Regions from separate parts of the Homo sapiens genome. Here region 2 is linked to region 1. Evidence: fine-mapped expression QTL. A gene starts in region 1. The other region holds a variant in brackets. All regions are shown on one strand. Distances are between the middles of the regions.

The links. PIP is the estimated chance that this variant, and not a neighbour inherited with it, causes the effect.
Region 2: its variant is the best candidate, but not a certain one, in a credible set for the expression of FCHSD2 in whole blood (INTERVAL, PIP 0.53).

What each region holds. Positions count from the first base shown.
Region 1 is chr11:73,140,661-73,143,567 of GRCh38, forward strand. It overlaps FCHSD2 (FCH and double SH3 domains 2), which reads right to left and starts at 1,658. Exons shown (of 20, transcript NM_014824.3): 1 at 1,197-1,658. The coding sequence starts at 1,217. RefSeq lists enhancers at 1-255, 256-877, 377-606, 2,477-2,586, 2,667-2,806 and 1 more and silencers at 787-926, 1,327-1,706, 1,867-2,246.
Region 2 is chr11:73,108,814-73,111,720 of GRCh38, forward strand. The region is part of intron 2 of FCHSD2 (FCH and double SH3 domains 2); the gene reads right to left. Among named protein-coding and RNA genes, the nearest start is that of FCHSD2, 32 kb to the right of the region's middle. The variant CT/C (reference allele first, on the strand shown) is at 1,337.

The DNA.
Region 1 (2,907 bases):
GCGCATCAAATCACAATCTCTTTCTCACAAAGGAGAAAGCAAAAGTGACCTTCCAGCATATGCAGTGCTTTTAAACTACCCCGGGAAGCCGATCCCCGTGGAGGCTCCACTTCAAACAGCGGAGAACAGCAAATGCCTGCTGGCCAGAGAGCCTCGCCCGCCAGGCCGGGGCCCCAGGGTTCGAAGTTAACGGTCAGTCTGGAATCTCGGCCTCAGCAGTGGGACCACCCGGAGGGGTGGGGGTACATGTTCGAAAGAAAAGGACTCACTTAAATGGAGAAACCCGGATTAGGAAAGAGAGAAAGCAGCGGCAGCAGACACGGGTGAGTTAGGCGTTAGGCAAATGTTTGCCCACGAGGGGAGGACAGAACGGCCTCATCCACCCAGTGCCCAGAGTAGACATTCAGTATCCATCTGTAGGATTAAAAAGACAAGGACACAGCCTCGGCCCCTGGGAAAGCTGGGGAAGGGCGCAGCGGGGAGACTGATGACAAGCCGGGTGCATCCGTCACTCCCACCCTGGTCATCCAACCCCGGATCGCAGTGCACACCCCACGCACCTCCCGGGCCCGGTCCTCGCTTTTCTGAAGACAGCACGACAGCCTCCTCGCCCCTCAGCCGGGGACGAGGCAGGACCCGTCAATCCTTAATTTGTTTTCCCTTGGGGTGGGGAGGCGGTGACTATTCCAACTTCTTTTCGGCCGCCCCGTGGGAAAAGCAGGCCAAACCCTAAGGCTAGGCTAGAAACAAATCCCCCGCAAATTTGCAAACGGGCGGGGCTGGCGACAAGCGGCTGGAGGGCTCAAAGCTGGTGCAGACTAAACAATCACACACGCACAAGGCTCTGCAAAGCTGCAGGGGCGTCCCCGCCTCCCCCTCGGTGCAGCCCCGAGAATGCACTTTGCAGCGGGCAGCATTGCCATGCGCGCGCACACACACAAATGCACACCCGAAACTCTTGTGAAATGTCTGGGGGTCTCCTGCGTTAGAGGACGGACGAGCCCCGGCGGCCCCTCTGTCGGAAAGGCAACTCACACGCGCGCCCCCCACCTGGAGCCGGCGGCAAGTCGGTGACAAGCCCAAGACGAGGGCGGTCACGGCCCCTTGCGGGAGGGGGAAGGGGCGCAGCGGTCGCCCCAGCCGCGTTCCGCGTACGCATCTCTCCGAACCCCAAAGCCCCCCAGCTGCGCCCTTACCTTCCTCGGCGGCGGCTGCATGATGCTGAAGGGACATCAATCCTCCCCGACGGCAGCGTTAGCAAGGACCAGGAGGAGGAGGAGGGCCGGAGAGGAGGGGACGGCCCAGCGAGCGCGCGCGTGTGTGAAAGGAGCGCTTAAGAAGCAAGACTTGCCCCGGAGGGAGCAGGCCAGCGGGCGGCAGGCGGACCCCAGCCAGAGAGCGAGTGTGAGGAGACGAGGGAGGAGCACCGGGAAGGCTTGGGGCCCGGGCGGCCCGGGCGGCCCGGGGGTGTGTGAGGAAGGAGGCGGAGACGGCGAGGGGGCGGGGGCCCCAGGAGCAGGGGCGCGAGGGTCTCAGCCGGCCGGGCGGCGGGTTAGCCGCAGCCGCGTTGTCCGCGCTCCCGGTCGGCCGCCTGCGCCGCCGCTCCCGGCGGACGCAGCGGCCCCCACCCCACCCACTCAGGCGGCCCGGCCCTCGCTGGGCCTAACGCCCCCGCCCGCCCGGGAGGAGGAAGGTGGCGCCGCTCTCCCCGCTAGGGCTCCACCACTCAGGCCGCGGGAATTTCCGGCCTCGCCGCGCGGCGCAGCGCCCCGCTCCGGATGCTGAGGGAACCGCTCTGTCCAGAGCGGGGTTCGAGGGGCCGGTCCGGGCTGCCAGGAGGGAGCTAGGCCACGGCACGGGGCTTCGTACCGCGGCAGGGGAAGGGGGAAGCTAACGGATTGGTCGGTGGGTGGGAGGTGTAGAAACGCCAGCGCCACGCGAAAATCCCCCCTTTCTCTCCGAGAGTGGCACGTTCCAGACGCCTCCTGCCCTCCCTCCCCCACGCTGGGAGCCAGCCGGGGGCTTCCCGCGCGCTTTCCCGCCAGCTCGCCCCGGCGCGCGCGTCTCCGCTCGGGGGCGCGCACGTGGGCGGGAGAGGGCTCCGCGCCGACGCACGCGCACAGGCCGCCCCCGCCTCCTGCCTGCCTTTGCGTGTGTGTGTGTGTGTGTGTGTGTGTGTGTGTGTGTGTGTGTGTGTGTGTGTGTGTGTGTCGGGGGGCGCGGGGGACGACGCTCGCAGGGAAACGTTTGCAGTGGGGAGGGGGGCGCAGCATGCCTGTGGGATACGAGAATTCCGGCGTTTTCTTCCTCTCAGCCCCTCAACACCCTACTCTCCCTACCAGCTAGATGTGCGCGAGAGAGGCGAGCAAGGACAAGTCGCTTTGCGGCTGGCCGCAGGTGCCAGGCCATTGCGATTGTAGGGCGGAAAGGCAGTTGCTCTGCAAAGGAAACGGCGGCACTCTACTGCAGGGCATTCAAGTCAAACATCACTGACTCCGCTGAGAGGGAGCCAAGAGAACGTTAAGGCCGAGGCCCCCGTTTCACAGACGGGGAGGCAAGTGCCCATAGAGGGAAGCCTTTCTAAAGGTTACACAGCAGGACTAGAATCTGCGTCAGGAAGTGTTCTATGGGTTATTTTAAAAAAGAAACAGGTGCAGGATAATAAGCACGAGGAAAAGTAGAAGAGGCAGGAGAGGCCATAGAGGAAGCCCTTGTCTGGGAGTCAGGATCTCTGGGTGCCAGTCCACTTTGCCTGCTCCTTAACAGGCTAGGTGAGCTCGGCTTCCTTATCTGCCAGTGAGGGTGCTTATCTAAGCAGTGCACCCCACCACCACACATGAACCTTCCTGCTCTGTTCAGACCATCTACGGGGGAGTTTATCGACCTCCCTTGGGGTCCTCAGAAGAG
Region 2 (2,907 bases), 32 kb before region 1:
ACCCGCTTCGGCCTCCCAAAGTGCTGGGATTACAGGCGTGAGCCACCGCGCCCAGCCTAGATTTAAGTTTTTAACACAATTTGATTTGGTTTTTATATATGGCAAGAGACATGGGTCTGGTTTCATTCTTCTGCATACGGATATTCAGTTTTTCCAGCACCATTTATTGAAGAGACTGTCCTTTCCTCAATGTATGTTCTTTGCACCTTTGTCGAAAATGAGTTCACTGTAGATGTATGGATTTGCTTTTGGGTTCTCTATTCTGTTCCATTGACCTGTGTGTCTGTTTTTATGCCAGTACCATGCTGTTTTGTAGTATAATTTGAAGTCAGGTAATGTGATTCCTCCAATTTTGTTATTTTTGCTCAGGATAGCTTTGGCTAGCTATTCTGGGTCTTTTGTGGTTCCATATATATTTTAGAATTGCTTTTTCTATTTCTGTGAAGAATGTCATTGGTATTTTGATAGGGATTGCATTGAATCTGTAGATTGCTATAGAAACTATGGACATTTTAACAATATTGATTCTCCCAATCCATGAACATGGAATATCTTTCCATTTGTTTGTGTCCTCTTCAATTTCTTTCATCAATGTTTTATAGTTTTCATTGCAGAGATCTTTCACTTCATCAGTTAATTCATAGGCATTTTATTTGTAGCTACTGTAAATGAGATTACTTTCTCAATTTCTTTTTCAGATTGTTCACTGTTGGCATACAGAAATCTTACTGATTTCTGTATGCTAATTTCATATCCTGCAAATTTACTGAATTTAATGGTTTTTTAGTGGGGTCTTTATGTTTCCCCAAATATAAGATCAAATCATCTGCAAACAAGCATAATTTGACTTTTTCCCTTTCCACTTTGGATGCTCTTTCTTTCTCTTGTCTGACTGCTCTTGCTAGGACTTCCAGTAATACACTGAGTAACAGTAGTGACAGTGGGCATCCTTGCCATGTTCCAGATCTTAGAGGAAAGGCTTTCAGTCTTCCCCATTCAGTGTGATACTAGCTGTGGGTCTGTCTTAAATGGCTTTTATTGTGTTGAGGTATGTTCCTTCTATACCCAGTTTATTGAGTTTTTATCATGAAGGAATATTAAATTTTATTAAATGCTTTTTGAGCATCAATTGAAATGATCATATGGTTTTTCATTCTTGATACGATGTATCATACTGACTGATTTGCATATGTTGAACCATCCTTGCATCCCTGGGATATATCTCATTTGATCATGATCAATTTTCCTTTAATGTATTATTGAGTTCAGTTTGCTAGTATTTTGTGGAGGATTTTTGCATCAGTATTCATCAGGAATACTGGTCTGTAGTTTTCTT[CT/C]TTTTTTTTTTGATGTGTCTTTGGTCTTTGGTATCAGGGTACTGCTGGCCTCACAGAATGAGTTTAGGAATATTCCCTCCTCCTCTATTTTTCAGAATAGTTTGACAGCAGTGGTATCAGTTCTTCTTTAAGTGTTTGGTGGAATTCTGCAGCAAAGCCATTAGGTCTTGGACTTGGCTTTGCTAGGCGATATTTTATTACGGCTTCAATCCTGTTATTTGTTATTGCTCTGTTCAGGTTTTGGATTTCTTCAAGGTTCAATCTTGATAAGTTGTATGTGTCTATGAATTATGCATTCCTTCTAGATTTTTCAATTTATTGGTATATAGTTGTTCATAGTACCCATGAATAATCTTTTTAATTTTTTCAGTATTAGCTGTAATGTCTCCTTTTTCATCTTTGATTTTGAGTCTTTTCTATTTTTTCCTAAGTCTATCTAATGTTTGTTGATTATCTTTTCACAAAACCAACTTTTCATTTTGTTGGTCTTTTGTATTGTTTTCTTCATTTCAATTTATTTCTGCTCCGATCTTTATTATTTCTTTTATTCTACTAATTGTGGGTTTGGTTTGCTCTTGCTTTGTCAGCTGCATAAGGTACATCATTAGGTTATCTAGCTGAAGATTTTTTTTTCTTGTTTGATGTAGGTACTTATAGCTATGAACTTCCCACTTCGTACTGCTGTCGTTGTATCTCATGGGTTGTTGGTATGTCATGTTTCCATTATCATTTGTTTTAATAAATTTTTCAATTTCCTCCTTAATTTCTTCATTAACCCACTAGTCATTGTGGAGCACATTGTTTAATTTCCATGTGGTTATATAGTTTCCAAAATTATTCTTGTTATTGATTTCTAGTTTTATTCCATTGTGATCAGAGAAGATACATGCTATTATTTCAGGGGTTTTTTTTAATGTTTTAAGACTTGCTTTGTCACCTGACATATGGTCTATGCTTGAGAATGATCCATGTGCTGAGGAAAGGAATGTGTATTCTGGAGCCACTGGATGAAATGTTCTGTAACTACCAGGTCCATTCGGTCTATAGTACAGATTAAGAGTGATGTTTCTTCGCTGATTTTCTGTTTGGAAGATCCTATCTCTCTTTTTAGCTCTAATATTTGCTTTACATATCTGGGTGCTCCAGTATTGGGTACATATATATTTACAACTGTTATATCTTCTTGCTAAATTGACCTCTTTATCATTATACAATGACCTTCTTTGTCTCTTCTAAAAGTTTTTGTCTGATATATGCATAGCTACTCCTGTTCTTTTTTGGCTTCCATTAGCATGGAATATCTTTCTCCATCCTTTTTTTTTTTTTCAGTCTATGTGTGTCTTTATAGGTGAAGTGTGTTTCCTGTAGGCAACAGGTCACTGGATCTTGTTTTTTTCAATCCAGTCAGCCACTCTATGTCTTTTGATTGAAGAGTTTAATCCATTTACATTCAATGTTGTTACTGATAAAGACTTACTCCTGTTATTTTATTTTTGGGTGTGTGGTCATCTCTTCCTTCTTTCCTTCCTTCCTGTCTTCCTTTTAGTGAAGGTGATTTTCTCTGGTGGGG